Linked DNA regions of Homo sapiens: region 1 is linked to region 2. A link means that fine-mapping ties the variant in region 2 to the expression of a gene that starts in the linked region. Tissue or cell type: prefrontal cortex. Region 2 holds a variant in brackets; the other region holds the start of a gene. All regions are shown on one strand. Distances are from middle to middle.

The links. PIP is the estimated chance that this variant, and not a neighbour inherited with it, causes the effect.
Region 1: it holds the start of TM2D3, and the variant in region 2 is fine-mapped to the expression of TM2D3 in prefrontal cortex (GTEx, PIP above 0.99).

The regions. Positions count from the first base shown.
Region 1 is chr15:101,648,470-101,656,570 of GRCh38, reverse strand. It overlaps TM2D3 (TM2 domain containing 3), which reads left to right and starts at 4,190. Exons shown (of 6, transcript NM_078474.3): 1 at 4,190-4,300; 2 at 4,798-4,875; 3 at 6,410-6,567. The coding sequence starts at 4,210. It overlaps TARS3 (threonyl-tRNA synthetase 3), which reads left to right. Exons shown (of 19, transcript NM_152334.3): 19 at 1,841-2,975. The coding sequence ends at 1,989. RefSeq lists enhancers at 2,896-3,786, 3,893-3,952 and silencers at 3,613-3,802, 4,043-4,602.
Region 2 is chr15:100,781,234-100,789,334 of GRCh38, reverse strand. All of the region lies in intron 2 of LOC105371024 (a long non-coding RNA gene), which reads right to left. It overlaps LOC440313 (protein enabled homolog), which reads left to right and starts at 4,850. Exons shown (of 1, transcript XR_001751715.2): 1 at 4,850-5,374. RefSeq lists a silencer at 1,705-1,905 and an enhancer at 6,636-7,265. The variant A/G (reference allele first, on the strand shown) is at 5,047.

The sequences.
Region 1 (8,101 bases), 870 kb before region 2:
GCTTATTAGGAAACTTTGGGATTAAACTAACAGAAAGAAAAGATCCCAAATTTAAAATGATCTAAAGGAAAAGATTTAGATGAAAAGTAAAATGTCCTTTTAGCATATGACTAATTAGATGCAGAATCTAAAATTTAGGCTTTAAAAATGATTCCAAAATTAAGAGAAACTAACACTGATATAACTGCAGGCACAGTATTGCTATTTCTTGTAAGTTGAGAGTCTGTAGAAGGCGAAATAAATATGCATAGCATTGTTCTATTGACAGTGTTTCAATGATAATGTTTGACACCAGAGTAGGTATTGTGCTGTTTCAGTCAGGCTTCTTATGGTGGCAGAAATCTCAACTTGGTTTAGACAAAGACAGCATTTGTTGGAAGGGTCTTGGAGTATCCCATGACATGAAAGGTAGAATTAAATAGCCAAACCACTAGAAGAGCAATCAGGAGCTCAACCCTCACCAGGAGTATTTCTCCCCATTTCTCGTTCCTGTCTTGCTCTGGTTCTTTATGCTTCTCTTGAATATCTACCTTATTCCACTTATCTGCAGACCGGTTTCTTCCTTCTGTGTGGCAAGAAGCATGGCTGTAGATTCCTGCATCATCTCACAATATGGGTCACTAGAGAGAACAAACTTTTTACCCACATTCCAGAAAGTTCTGGCTGGCTCGCATGGGTCTGGTGTCCACTCCTTGGCTCATCAGGTATGCCAGGTGGAGTCAGCGTGAGCCTGTAAGAGCTCCCCGCTCTCATCTGCACCCTAGTGCCAGGTGGGGTCAGTGTGAGCCTGTAAGAGCTCCCCACTCTCATCTGCACCCTAGTGCCAGGTGGGGTCAGTGTGAGCCTGTAAGAGCTCCCCGCTCTCATTTGCACCCTAGTGCCAGGTGGAGTCACTGTGAGTCTGTAAGAGCTCCCCGCTCTCATTTGCGCCCTAGTGCCAGGTGGAGTCACTGTGAGCCTGTAAGAGCTCCCCGCTCTCATTTGCGCCCTAGTGCCAGGTGGAGTCACTGTGAGTCTGTAAGAGCTCCCCGCTCTCATTTGCGCCCTAGTGCCAGGTGGGGTCAGTGTGAGCCTGTAAGAGCTCCCCGCTCTCATTTGCGCCCTAGTGCCAGGTGGAGTCACTGTGAGCCTGTAAGAGCTCCCCGCTCTCATTTGCGCCCTAGTGCCAGGTGGAGTCACTGTGAGCCTGTAAGAGCTCCCCCCTCTCATTTGCACCCTAGTGCCAGGTGGGGTCAGTGTGAGCCTGTAAGAGCTCCCCCCTCTCATCTGCGCCCTAGTGCCAGGTGGAGTCACTGTGAGCCTGTAAGAGCTCCCCCCTCTCATTTGCACCCTAGTGCCAGGTGGGGTCAGTGTGAGCCTGTAAGAGCTCCCCGCTCTCATTTGCGCCCTAGTGCCAGGTGGAGTCAGTGTGAGCCTGTAAGAGCTCCCCGCTCTCATTTGCACCCTAGTGCCAGGTGGGGTCAGTGTGAGCCTGTAAGAGCTCCCCGCTCTCATTTGCGCCCTAGTGCCAGGTGGGGTCACTGTGAGCCTGTAAGAGCTCCCCGCTCTCATTTGCGCCCTAGTGCCAGGTGCAGTCAGTGTGAGTCTGTAAGAGCTCCCCCCTCTCATCTGCACCCCAGGACCACAAGAGCTGTTCTCTCAGGTGGACAATAGAGAGATGGGATCAGAAGTCATTGCTTCCCTCAAGAAACTTAACTATCAGAGGATGAACCAAATGCTCATTAGATGATATTTAATATTAGTGAAGAAAAACTTGATAAAAACATGTCATGGGACTGCTGACTTAATGTTTGGTAAATTGCTGATTTAAAATACATTTCTTTACCTTTCTTTTCTGCAGTGGTTGGAGAAAAGGAAAAGATAGATAATGCTGTAAACGTGCGAACAAGAGACAACAAAATTCATGGAGAGATTTTAGTAACTTCTGCCATTGATAAACTGAAGAATCTCAGGAAGACACGGACACTCAATGCTGAGGAGGCCTTTTGAAGTCCTTCCCTGATATTTGCTTCTGTGTAACTTTGTTTTGACCCTTAAAAATGTATTTTTCTTAACATGTTAGTACTTCTACGACTTTGGAGCCACTGATGGGTCCACTCATGGCCTCAGCTGAGAAAGGAGACGATGAACGTGTAGCTGACATGCACGAAGTTTAATTTACTCATGTCCACGGGGGACGTTTAGAGGGCACGTGGGAAATTTTCCAGCAATCAATGCCTTGAGAAACTTAAATGGGGAAATATTATTCATCGAGAAAGTGAAACAAAACACTAGGAAATGATTATGAAATGTTAGTGATTTTCAAAAGATGGGCTTCAAATAAAAGTCTGCAGAGTTTTTTTTAAATAGGAGGGAAAATCTTATTTTCTAATATGTCTCAGGTATTTTTATGACTTCTACTAAAATTCACACTGAAACTTTATCTTCTAAACTGGAATCATTACTTAATTTTAACTAACCAACAACCACAAAAGCAGCAGCTACTGCTAAATATTGGATTACTGACAAAGGAATTCAGTTTTGTGGAATCTGGTGTTTGCACTATAGGTTAAGAGTTGCCATTTAAATGTTTCTTATTCATAATTAGGTTTTGTTCCGCTTTAGAAAAAAATAAATTCCCAAATGAATTGCATCAGTGTTTCCAGCGTTTCAGCTGTGGGCTTCTACCACCACTAAGCCGCTCACCTAGAGTTGTTACTTTTTTGATGGGATGACATTCCATGGATTTATGTACTGAAATGGATTTCAGATTTTAAAGAGAGGAATGCTCTACGTGCTCAGAACTGAATTAAAATGGCATTATGTCAATAGAGAATTCAGCTACCAAACAAGAAGTATTGTTTATTTTGCGATATGCTGTGAAATTCAAAAGAAATGTAAGAAATAATCTCTTTTCAATATACTGATCATTTAGTTAACTTCCTGAGGGATGTGAACAGTGAAACAGTTGGCAAACAAAACAATATATATCAGGCTTGTGTAGTAGTATAAGGTGCAGATTGTGTGATATGATTTTTATTATTTATTTTTTGAGACGGAGTCTCGCTCTGTCACCCAGGCTGGAGTGCAGTGGCGCGATCTCGGCTCACTACAACCTCCGCTTCCCGGGTTTAGGCGATTCTCCTGCCTCAGCTTCCCCAGTAGCTGGGACCACAGGCGCGTGCCTCCACGCCTGGCTAATTTTTTTGTATTTTTAGTAGAGACAGGGTTTCACCGTGTTGTTAGCCAGGATGGTTTCGATTTCCTAACCTCGTGATCCGCCCGCCTGGGCCTCCCAAAGTGCTGGGATTACAGACGTGATTCACCGCCCCCGGCCGTGATACGATTTTTAAAGCTAACATTCAGGGCTTATGTGCCGGCACTTTTCCATGTATTTTTTAAAAAGTCATTCAGCAAACATGCACGTGAGGGGGTGGTAGTCAGAAGACCGCGGAATGAACGATCCCGAAGCACGTGGGTGGGAGGAGAGCACCTGTCACCAGCGCTTTCTCCCAGGTGTGCTGTGACAGAAACCGGCAAGGGTCTCCGCAAGCTGGGGCCTGAGCGCGGCTCCCCAGACGGCCGCGACCTTCCCCAGGCAGGGCTGGGCTCTGGACCCTCCCCTCACTTCCCAGCGCCTCGGGCCATCCTGCTTCTCCAGGCCTGAGAGGAACTTTCTGGAAGTGCTGCGTATCTTCAAGAGGCCGGCCAGAAGTGAAAGCCGCGGCAGGCCTGAGCGCCGGCCCCAGGGGAGGGGTCCCTCGGGCCCTCGTCGTCCCGGGGCCGCTTCCCCGACTGTAAATAAGTGTCTTTAGGATGAAACGCCACGCGATAGTGTCCTCGGAACCTTCGCACGAGATCCAGCACACAACATCCGACCACACACTGGGGCGGCCAGCCTCCCGCGTTCGCCCGCCTCTGCTCTTGGTTGCTTCGGGCGCGCATTTCGGTCCACGGATGACCTTTAACAGGTCTCCTGCAGTGGAACCAGGGGTGAGGGCCTCGTCCAAGGGCGTGAGGGGCGCGTGGAAATGGAACAACCTCCCAGGCTCGCATCCTCCTCGGGGACCTCCCAGAAGGCTCAACCGGAAGAAAACCCGCGACCCGCGCGAGGACAGCGAAAGCGCAAACGCCGGCCGCCAGGAGTCGCAGCGCGCCTGCGTCCAGTTCACGCTCCGGCTCCCAGGCGCGCCCCGCCCCCCGGCCCGGAAGTGCGCAGGCGCTGGCAAGATGGCGGGAGGGGTGCTCCCGCTGAGGGGCCTCCGCGCCTTGTGTCGCGTGCTGCTCTTCCTCTCGCAGTTCTGCATTCTGTCGGGCGGTGGTGAGTCAAAGGCTGGGTTCAGCGCCGGGTGGGGCTGAGTGGCAGCAGGGCCCCGGGAGCTGCGAGGAGGCCGGGCCCACGGGCGGACGCTGACGCGGGGAGGAGGCCGAGTGCCGGGCTCCGGGCCGCTTGTCGCTGCATCTGGAGTCTGGCGCCCTGGCCGCCCGGCCCGAGGCCGCCCCTCCGCTCCGGCGACACCGAGCCCGCCATCGCGGCTGCGGAGCCCTGGCACGGAGATGGAGCGCTTGGGGGCTGGGCCGGGGAGGCGGAACTGGAGCGCGATGTCATCCTTCGGTCCCTCGTTGCCGGCTGACCTGAACTGATGTCTACTCTGTTGACGTTTCGTCCCTAAGCTTTGTGTTTTCTGGCTGACCAGCCGTGAGGTTTTCATGAGCAGCTTATTGGCCTGGTGTAGACCCGCCGTGTTAACCACACAAAATAAGGTTTTCTTGTCCCGGGATAACGTGTTTCTCTAATTGTACGATCCTTAAATTTAGAGCAATCGCAGGCGCTGGCTCAGTCAATAAAGGATCCGGGCCCAACACGCACATTCACAGTAGTTCCCAGGGCAGCAGGTACTAGACGTTTTCTATTCTAGTAAATACATGTAGTTATCTCTAGTAGTTTCTCTTTGTTTTTATAAAAATTCCCTTTAGTATACGAAGTCACTTTCCATTTTTGAATATTTATTGTATTTTAGATTATGTGAATTAAGGGTAGATACACAGCCATTTTCAGTAGATAGTCTTCGTATTTATACCTTTTGACGTTTCTGCCTCCTCTCTTTTTCCAATCCCACGCTCATTTGTCACCTTATTTCTATTATTTTTCCACTTCATCCATCAAAATAACCTTCAGTCCGTGCTTCTTTCCCTTCAGCAAATTTCCTCTACTGCTAAAACCCTGTTCCTGATGTTGGAATATTAAAGGCTCCCTCAGGACTGTGGAAATGGAAGGATTACAGCGGGACTGATGGAGACTTGAAATCTAGATCTGGTTTTGCTACTGGGATCTTGAACAAATTATTTATCCTCTTTGGACCTTGGTCCTCATCTTTAAAGCGGTGGGGTTGGTCTGACGACCTAAAGTCATTTCTGCTTTGTGATTCTAAGTGTCCACCTTCCAGCCACATAGTCACGGGATCAAAAAGAGTATTTTGTAGAATTGTTCCTTAATACAGTGAGTAAAGTAGGACCAGTTTTAAACAAGCATTAGTGTGTTTTGCTAGGTGGAGGCTCTGACTATAATTTCATCACTTTAAAGTGACATTACTTCAGTGAATTGAAACTGGCAGAGATATTTTACTGATTCTTATTTGGATGTAAAAAACAGCAGTGCACTTGAATTTTAAACTCAGATTACTTTTTAGAGAAAGCACAAGAGTTCTTAACTCTTGCAGGCTTTTGAAAGCCCTTCTTTTCAGGAATACTTGCAATTTTGATCCTTTCAGTTGGTAAAAATACATTGCACACTCATTAGGTTGGTTGGAAATAAGTTGCAGCTTACTGAAGATGTTATTAAAGTAGAGAACTGTTTTGAACTTTGGTAGCGTAAAACTGTAAATATTATATTAGCAAATGTGGCTTATCGAAGTACCAGTGTGAAATAATGACATTTTAAAGTTGATGCCCTGAGGATGTCAGTGGCTTCATTTCTGAATTAGTGAATTCAGATGAAAAGAACACGGGATTGGAAATGGAGAGATTTGGGTTCTAGTTCCAGTTTTGCCACAGACTTCCTCTGTGATTTTGCAAAACCCTACTGTAAGTTTTTTTTCAACTTACAAAATGATAGTCTTTTTTTTAAGCCCTTAATGTATACCCAGAATTTTCTATACATTATTTGTATATGAGCACCTTTAGTTTTCACGGCCACGTGGGAGGCAGGAATGAAGTAATGTTTTACAAGTGTGGTGCTCACCAGGTCCCACAGCTGGCCGTGGGCAGAATTCTGCTTTAATTGCAGGTGTCTCTGACTCCAGTCCCATGCTTCTTCCCTTCCAGTGCAGTGTCTACTTGCTAATGATCACGTCTCTTAACCTTAGAAGATTGTTCTCTGTTATTCGAATCAGTATTATAGGAGAATAAGCTTCTCTCTTGCCTCTCACAGAAAGTACTGAAATCCCACCTTATGTGATGAAGTGTCCGAGCAATGGTTTGTGTAGCAGGCTTCCTGCAGACTGTATAGACTGCACAACAAATTTCTCCTGTACCTATGGGAAGCCTGTCACTTTTGACTGTGCAGTGAAACCATCTGTTACCTGTGTTGTAAGTACTGCAGCTTACTTATTCTAAATAAATTCATTGTAAACTTTAAGTTAGAAGAACAATTCAGACTTGATTATTGGGAAGAAATTCTGAAGAATTTTTATATTCTTTTATGATTTCCCTTTTGAGTATGTAAGCAGAAATAAATTAAAAAACCCAATAGACCTTTCCATATCAGCTCACTACTGTTTTAGTTATAATGATAACTGTCAAGCCAGTTGATGTCTGCTGGAAATGCACTTGACAGAAATGTTGCTTTGTAGGACTGGAGAAGATCTCAGTCTACTAGCATATCTGAAGCAAGTCTAATTCGTTCAGATGGATTCTGTGTTCTCAATAGTGACAGCTAGTGTACAGAGGGGGTGGCAGTGTCTTTCTGCCATAGATGAGCTTTTGAAGGGCCAGTGCTTATCTGTGGTGAGAAGATGGATTCAGTAAATGCCGGAATGCCTGGTAGCTCTCTAGAACAAAATTAAGTGGAACGCCTGTCTTATCCAGAATAAATTCCAGATAGTCCAAAGATGTAATGTGAAAAATGAAACCCTGAAGTACCACAGAAAACACCAGATAGTTGCTGTTATAATCCCAAAATGGAGAATATTTTTCTAAGTATGAAATAAAGTTTAGAAGCCATAAAATAAAGAATTGATACATTTGACTCCTAAAAATTGGAGATTTCTGCATGACCTAAAAAAAAAAGCATAAAGGCAAAAGACATGGCAAACTAGGAAAAAGCGTTTCTAGAATATGTGACAAATAATACAGTAATATCAGTAATATATAAACACTTCCTAAAACCCACACGGAAAAGATGACAGTCTTGTAGAAAAACAGTGTTAGGACATGAGCAGATGGTTCATAGGAAAGGAAATACAAATAGATATATAACATGAAAAACATATAAGTTTTCTCATAGTATTTAATTAATACATTTTTAACCCTTAGATTGGCAATTTTTTTTTAATTTGATTAACTCTGAGTTTGTGAGAGTATAAGGGTCAGATGCTCATATCTTATTAATAGGTAATCAAATTGATCAACCTCTTGTAGGCGATTTGCCATATCTGTTAAACTTACACATGCACACAATCGTTGAGCTCGTAGTTGTACATGTAGGAATTTATGTTATAGATATCATTATACATGGATGCAGATAAGTGTGCTTATTTTTTAGCTGCATTGCTCATTAAAGCAAAAGATTCAAAAGAAGTGAAATGTCTAAGAACTGCTTAATTTATGGTACACGTGTAATAGAATAAACACCTTGTAGCCATTAAAAAGAACTAGGCAGCTCTAGAGGTAATGTACTGATAGATGTCCAAAATTAAGTGAAAGTATTGGGGAACATTAAATGTAGGTGACATAAATGTGCCTATGTGTAGAATCAGCTCTCTCTGGAAGCACAGAGCGTACTTGGCCTGGGGAGGGCAGGGGCTCCCGGCGGCTGGGCCAGACGAGGCCGGCTCACTTCTCACTCTCCTGTTGTGTCTTGACATGTGTTCCATGTACATGTGTCACCTACTTTTTAAAAAAC
Region 2 (8,101 bases):
CATGGACAGGCGGCAGCACAGGCCAATTGCAAAGATTCCCTTTGCTGAGCTCTGCGGCCCTCCTGTTATGAGGCCTGGTGCACAGCAGCCATTTGCCAAGTGGAGGCTGTATTTCTTCCAGAAAGCCGTCTTTCCTAAACTCCTTTCTGCCTATGTCAGTTGGAAAGGTGGCTCCCTCTCTAACTCCCCTTCCCCTGTGGTGAGCTCCTCCAAGCACATATAGTAGGTGCTCGATGCTTGCTGGCAGAATCAATGAATGGGCAGGGCATCATAGCCAAGACAGTGGAGGGCAACAGGAAGAGAAGAGTTCAGATTTCAAGGGGAAGCCGAGAGTAAAACCCTGTGCTGTCCTGGGAGACACATTCATAGGCATTTCATTCTGGAACTCTACCTGAGGCATCCAGGAGCCTGCCTGGGGGCCTCTGCCTCAATATTGCTGCATCTGCCCACACAGTCTTCTAGGTCCTGTGTGTCTGCTAAGGGATGCTAACTTGACTGTTCGCAGAGCGGAGAAAGGCACGATCACCCAGAAAGCCCACACAGTAAAGACAGAGCCACAGTGTAAGCACTGGCTCAGCCTGTTGCTTCTGAGCCCCCATCCTGTGCAGGACCCCACTCTCTGTGTGTCAGAGAGGAAACACAGGGATGAATCCCATGGGCATCACCTCCCCCCAGTTCATGCTCCAGATGCAGGGCTTGGGAAGAGACACTGCAGAATCAGGCTTTGCAGTGAGCTGCTGTTTCCCTTGCTAGAAATGGTTTCTTTGGGTGATGATTGAATGGCGATGGTCTTCAGGGCTGTTCCGTTCAGTTGTGTAGTTGCATTGGGCCAAATGTGCCCAGCTAGGAGGCAAATTGGACCTGAAATCCAGCTCATGCCACTTTTGCCACACCATGCCAGGGGTTGCTGCTGCCCAGGGGGGCACCTTCTGTAATCTACACAAAGGCACAGCACGTGGGCAGTGCTGAGCTTGCTTCCTTCCGGTGCATCCGATGCCGGTGAGCAAGAAGGCAAGGTGCAGTGTGCAGCCCCTTGGTGGGACCCCAAACTGCTGCAGGGGAAGTAGCAGGGGCAGAGAGATGGGCGGCCAACCCACCTGCACAGGGCCTCTTACCTCCCCATTCCCTCTCATCCCAGCCCTGGGGCATGCTTGGAGGTTGGCAGAGCCTTGCAGGAACTGACTCTGGAGATTCTCAGAAGGAAAAGCAGGAGAGGGAGTTTCCAGAGATTGGCGGGGAACTGAGGGGAGATCCCTGTGACTGAAGCCTGCTTAGCAACATGGGAATCTCCTGCCATCACAGGATGCCAAAAGGGTGCGAGGCAAGAGAGACAAAAGGTAAAGTAACAAAGGCACCTGATCAAAGCCAGGGGCTGGGTGTCCCTGGCTCCACTTTACACAGGAATCAACTGAGGCTCACTGGGTGAGGCTGCTTGACCCCTACCACTCTACTAGTCAGTGGCTGGGCCACACTTTAGACCCCGGCCTGCCTGGCTCCCCACAGCAGCTGCCGCCTCTGCATGGACACCACCCCAGCCTGGCGCTGGGTGCAGTTGTGCGGGGGAAGCTGCAGCCTGGGCAGGTTGGGCTCTTGTGTTGCTCCCAGAGCAGCTGACCTCATCCCATCTGGGTGTGTGGGGAAGGCAGCAGGTGTGGTGCTGGGAGGGACAGGAGCCCGTGTTCAACATGTCTGGAGAAATCAGTGACAACAGAAATGGCACGCGATTTCCGTATGGAGAGCAAAGCCACCGAGGGGTTTCTCCGGAAAAGTCAGGGGGATGGCATCGATTGCTCAAGGAGGATTTAGCAATAGGATGGAAGGAAGCCTACACGCTGGCGTCAGGAGCACGCTCAACCAGCACAAGAAGCGCACCCAGGCGGCAGGAGCCACAGCCGCCTCCAGGTGTCCGTGATGCGCCTTCAGCGGGCGCCGCAGCTCTAGCTGCGCGTTAGGGTCCCCGGAGAAGTTACAAAGCGAGCGCATAGGCTTGGGCCCTATTCAATGGTTCTGCCTTAATTGCTCTGGGGAGACCCCGGCAGGGGCATGTTTTTGAGTTTCAGGACTCTGCTGTGTAGCTGTGATGGAGAATCTTTCTCTGTGGGCTCATGACGCCCACCCAGGTCTGCTCCCCACCCCGTCCCATGAAGTCTTCTGCCTCCAGGGTGGCAGCAGGTCGACCAGGGGCCATGTGAGCTGGAGCAGGCCGATCCTCACCTGGGTCTAGAGAGGCGATCTGGCCAGGTGACCCGTGAGGCTCCTCCCTGGGGCAAAATCTTCGTGAAGGGTGGGCCGGAGAAGACGTGAAGGCAGGTGGGACGCACCCACTTCCCAGCCCTGAGGGACTGGAGACTGGTGTCTCAGCCAGCTCGGGCTGCCGTAGCAAAACACCACAGAATGGGAGGCTTAAGTAACAGCTTGATTTTTCTCACAGCTCTGGAAGCTGGAAGCCCCAAATCAAGGCGTCGGCAGGGCTGGTTTCTCTGAGACCATCCTGGGCTTGCAGACGGCCGCCCTCTCTCCATATCCACATGTGATCCTTCCTCTGTGCCTGTCTGTGTCCTAATCTCTTTTTCTTGTAAGGACACGAGTCAGATCATGTTAGGGACCACCCTAACGACCCCAATTTAACCTAACTGCCTCTTTAAAGGCCCTGTCTCCAAATAGTCACATTCTGAGGAATGGGTTTAGGGCCTCAGTGCATGAATTCGGGAGAAACACAATTCAGCCCCTAACAGCTGTGCTGGAGGCTTGATGAGACGGCCCTGCCTAATCTAACTTCAGGACAGCAAGCACACACCTGTATGCTCACACTCTCACACACACCTGCATGCTCACACACACACACGCCTGCATACTCACACACCCACACCCACACACTCACACACATTGACACGCACACACACTCTCACACACACATTCACACACACATACACACGCACACTCACACACACGACACACACTCACACACATTCACACACATAAGCACACTCACATTGACACACATTCACACACTCACACATACACACACACATACACATACACACATATACACACTCACTCACACACATTGACACACACACTCATACACATTCACACACACTCACACACACTCACATTGACACACTCATACAAATTCACACACTCACACACACGTACACACACACATTGACACACACACACATTCACACACTCTCACACACACTCTCACATCACATTGATCTAGGGATTTCCTCAGGTTGAAACGGGCCTGACCATCTGCAAATGGGCAGGTAAGTCCAAATGCAGAACTGATCTTCACTTAGGGCTTCAGACAAAATCTCAATTGATGTAAAAGCCCATTAACCGCCCCCCTCAAAGTAAAACAACAGCAACAACAACAAAAGGTGTTTCGAATTAGTTTTTGAAACTAAAAGTATTTCAAGAAATTCACTCCATGAATGAGTCATGACATGGCATAGTGGGAAGAACAACTTCCTGGGGCCAAGAAAACCTGAGCTGAAAGTCAGTAGTGCCTGTGAGCAGCCCCTGGACCTGGGGCAACTCACTGACCTCTCTGAGCCCAGCTTCTTAGGGGCTTGTGAGCATCGTCCCCTGCCAGGGCCTCTGCACACCGCCTGGTCTGGAACAGGGACACCTTGGGTGCTCCTCCCTCCAAGCCTTCCCACCGCCCTGGTGCACAAGGCACCTACAGCTCTGGAGCTCTCAGCTACAGCTGAGGTGCTCTGGGCTCTCCTGCGGGGCCGAGGGGCTTGTGACGCTGGGCCTCTTCCTACAGTCACTCATATCCACGTGGAATGAGGTTTCCAATATCCATAGGCAAATATGATCCACCCACCTGCCTGCCTACCTTCTGAAGTCACCATTTCCCTGACATAATTGCATCTTACAGATCTTACAGCTGTTTCCTGTGGCCCACTTGATGGTTGGTGGCACCTTGGCATGTCCACCAGGTAGCACCTCATGCTGAACATCACAGCTGGCCCCAGGCAGGCCCTTCCCTTCCTCCTCACTCTGTCTACATCACTGGATCAGGGAAGCTGGCTTCATTCAACCCTTCCTTCTGTAGGTCCTGAAAGGTGAGGTGATGGCTGCTTCTCCACTCCCCACCCCTCTTTGTTGTGTAAGTGTGATTGGTCACACATCACAGAAAACTCATATAGCAGATATTTGCCACGTAACGTAGAATTTGAAAGCACATCTATGCCATAGGAAACGGCTAATTGCCTTGACTCAGGAGTGCCCCCAAGAGCCTGTCTCATTGGGAATCCTTCAGCTGTCCCAAGAGGAAACCATTGCGTTGACTTTTGTGACAGTCATGTACTTGGTTTTAATGATGTTTATCACTTACTTACAAGTTCTTAAGCACCAGAGTTGAGTTGGGCCTCTTTCTGCCCCTGGGATCACTGGGCATGTCCTCGTCAGTGCCTGATTTCTTTTGCTCAGTGTGTTTGGGGGATCCTTCTATTTCATTGCCTGGTCTTCGCTCATTTCCTATTGCAGTTCCGTGCATGGCCCATTACATGAACACAACCATTGTTTTCTCTCTTCCATTGTTTTCTCTCTTCTGCTATTGATGGACTCGGGGTTGCTTCTGATCTTTGGCTCTTAGGAAGGTTGCCCCATAAACATCCTCTTACCTGTCTCCAGGTGCACCTGTGCACAGTGCCTGCCAGAAAAGTACCTGGGGGTGGAACTGAGTTTCTTCACTTTGGCAGGTGCTGCAGACGGTCAGCTTCTCTTCTCACCAGCAGTGGGAGAGCCCCCTGTGCTCCAGCCCTCCCCAGAGCTGGGGATCATCAGACCTGAGAGCCACAGGTCCTCGTCCATGTGTAGCTGACCAGATGTGAGGATGCTCTGCCCATGTTTGGGGACAGCTTCTTTTCCTCTCCCCATCTGGCTCCCCGCTGCTCCCTGTGTGCCCACCCCACCTGCCCCGGTGTTTGGCTGGCCTCCTCTTCCTGCTGAGCCAGTGCCTCTAAGGAGCTGCCAGCAGTGGGGATGCGCCAGGCCTCCTCCAGTTCTCCAGGGCGCAGGCTTTCTGCTGCG[A/G]CCATCCCGGGTCTCATCGAGCTCTGCACCCTGCACCCGCAGCGCTGACCTCACGGAGTCTGCCCCTCTGCTGCAGCTTGCCCTGGCCTCCTGCCTGCCTCTTTCTGATCCTGTCGTCTTTTGCCTCCTTGGCCTCCCTCCTGGCCTTGCTGCTGTCTCCCTTCCTCAGCTTGTCTTTTGGGGAATCTCTAACCTTCCAGAACTCCCTCTGCCCATATGGAGCCCCGATCTGGGCAGCACCACCCCTTTGCAAAACTCCCCTCCGTCCACACCTCCCTGGGGCTTGCAGGCACCATCCAAGGAACAGCAGGACTCACCATCTCAGTGAGCCAGGGCAGGGTAGCCCGGGTCTGAGGCAGCGTGGGATTGGGAGTCTGAGCCATGGCGTGGGCTATGGGACCTGGGCCAGGCAGCAAATGTCTCTAAGCTCTCCTGTTCTCATCCATAAAAGAACATAATTATAAGGATTCAGTGAGAGAATATCCACGGCAGTGTTTGGGAGTGATGTGCTACCTGGCTCAGAAGTCACTGTGAACATCATTGTCCCTTTCTGTAATGTAGCTTTCTGTCATGCATCTAGCTAGTATGTAAGGAGAACCTGGTGCACACAGGCTGTTACTTCACCTTATCTTGTTGTGGAGTGCTCGTAACTGCCCGCCAGGAGGTAGGCACCGTGTTCCTCTCTGCTTTACAGAAGAGGAAACCGAGGCCTAGGAAGGGGGCTGGCCTTGGCTGAGATGTCACCCCTGATGACAGGCAAAGCTGGGAATCTCATCTCTGTGGCCAGACTCCCAGCACCATCATGCACGGCTTTCTGGAGCAAAGGCAGAATGATGAGGAGATCACAGGCACGGAGGCAGGAGTGTGAAAGCATCAGAATATGCCACCCCAAAGGATGCCGCTTTGACATAAGGATTATTTTGAGCTGAAGGCAACTGAGAAACAGCCAGATGCAGAAAAAGCTCTCTACTCCCCATGCTCCCATCTGCCTCAAGGGAGGGCAGAAATTTATCTTTTTTTTTTTTTGAGACAGAGTCTCACTCTGTCACCCAGGCTGGAGTGCAGTGGAGCAATCTTGGCTCACTGCAATTTCAGCCTCCTCGGTTCAAGAGATCCTCATGCCTCAGATCCCCAAGTAGCTGGGATGACAAGCATGCACCACCGCACTCGGCTAATTTTTGTATTTTTAGTAGAGACGGGGTTTCGCCGTGTTGGCCAGGCTGGTCTTGAACTCCTGACTTCCTCCTTCAACACCTGCCTCGGCCTCCCAAAGTGCTGGGATTACAGGCATGAGCCACGGTGCCTGGCCCAGAAATTCATTTTTGTGAAGGATTCCTCCTCCCCTCTCCTGTACCAGAAAGAAGCCACAACTCATCACCGGAGATGGCACCAACCTGAATAGTCATAACCTTTAACAACCCTTATCTTCCATTATTTCCCCCGTATGTATCCCTTTCCACATTTGCCATCCCTAGAAGCTCAAAACATTTTTCCTTTGTCTTGTCATGTCTCCACAATTTTTTTATTTTTTTTGAAACAGAGTCTTGCTCTGTCACCCAGGCTGGAGTGCAGTGACACGATCTCGACTCACTGCAACCTCCGCCTCCCGGGTTCAAGTGATTCTCCAGCCTCAGCCTCCTGAGTAGCTGGGATTACAGGCATGTGCCACCATGCCCAGATAATTTTTGTATTTTTAGTAGAGATGGGGTTTCACCATGTTGGTCAGGCTTCTCTCAATCTCCTGACCTCGTGATCCTCCCGCCTTGGCCTCCCAAAGTGCTGGGATTACAGACATGAGCCACCATGCTGGCCACATCTCCACAATTTATGGCTCTTTGTTAAGATGTTACACAGGCTCCAAATGCTAACCACCTCAGAGAGTCACATTTCTTTGTGAATGCCCACGCATATGTATATAATTAAATCTGTTCTTTTCTCTTGTTAATTGCCTTTTGTCAGTTTAATTTGCAGGACCTCAGTCACTGAACATAAGAAGGTAGAAGACACATTTTTTTTTCTCCCTCACAAAGCCAGGACCCCTGAGGAGGGTCCCAGGCCCTGCTCATAGCACACCATGCCTAAGAGGGGACCAGCTCCAGGGAACAGCAGGGTAACCCCCCCCATGATATGGAATGCTGTGGGATGTGCCAGGGTGTGGCCCCCAGCCAGGGTGAGCAAGCGGGTCAGCTCCCTCTGGCCCTTGGAGGCCTCAGTATGCCTTGCAGCCCGAGTCCTGCCTGTCCCTCCTTGCAGCCCGAGTCCTGCCTGTCCCTCCTTGCAGCCCGAGTCCTGCCTGTCCCTCCTTGCAGCCCGAGTCCTGCCTGTCCCTCCTTGCAGCCCGAGTCCTGCCTGTCCCTCCTTGCAGCCCTGGCTGCAGAAAGGGTGAACCTGCCTTGAGGGCACTGCCTGCGCCTTCCCAGGGAGCTCCTCTGGCCTCCCCTCTCCATTCGCCCACTCCTCCGTGGTTACGTTTCGTGAAAACAGATGCTTTCCAGGAGAGTCACAGTTCATTAGGGAGATGGAGAGCAGGGATCCCAGGCTGCCACTGTGACCAGAATGGAGAGGCCTTCCCAGCACAGCAATCCCCTGGGCTGGTGCAGTGCCTGGCCCATCAGAGGGGCTGAATGGGCAGGGGCAGGGCAGACAGAGATTGCCCTACAGAGGTGACCTTTTGTTACTAGCTTGAGAGTTGCTTTCCTCTATCTCTTTAGATAAGTTATTTGGTAGATGCTGTTACTGATGTGTGCACTGTGGGCTTCAGCAAAGACAGAAACAGATCCCTGAGAACCCCTGGGAACAGCTGCAGTGGTGAGTGGCCACTCCCAGCAGTCCTCTCTCAGAGGACAGAGGGGCTGCACAGAGGAGGAAAGGAGGGGTGTGGGTGTTTCTCCCCACGCCTTTTGCTTCCAGAGAGAGGCCTCTGGGATGCAGGATCTCCCCAGGTGTTGCTTCTTCAGCTGGGAGCTGTTGACACCCACCAGGGACTGGAAGATCCCTGGACAAAACAAAGGTGAGAAAGAAGCCCTGGAAGGGCCCGGGGGAGAGGGATGTGCCA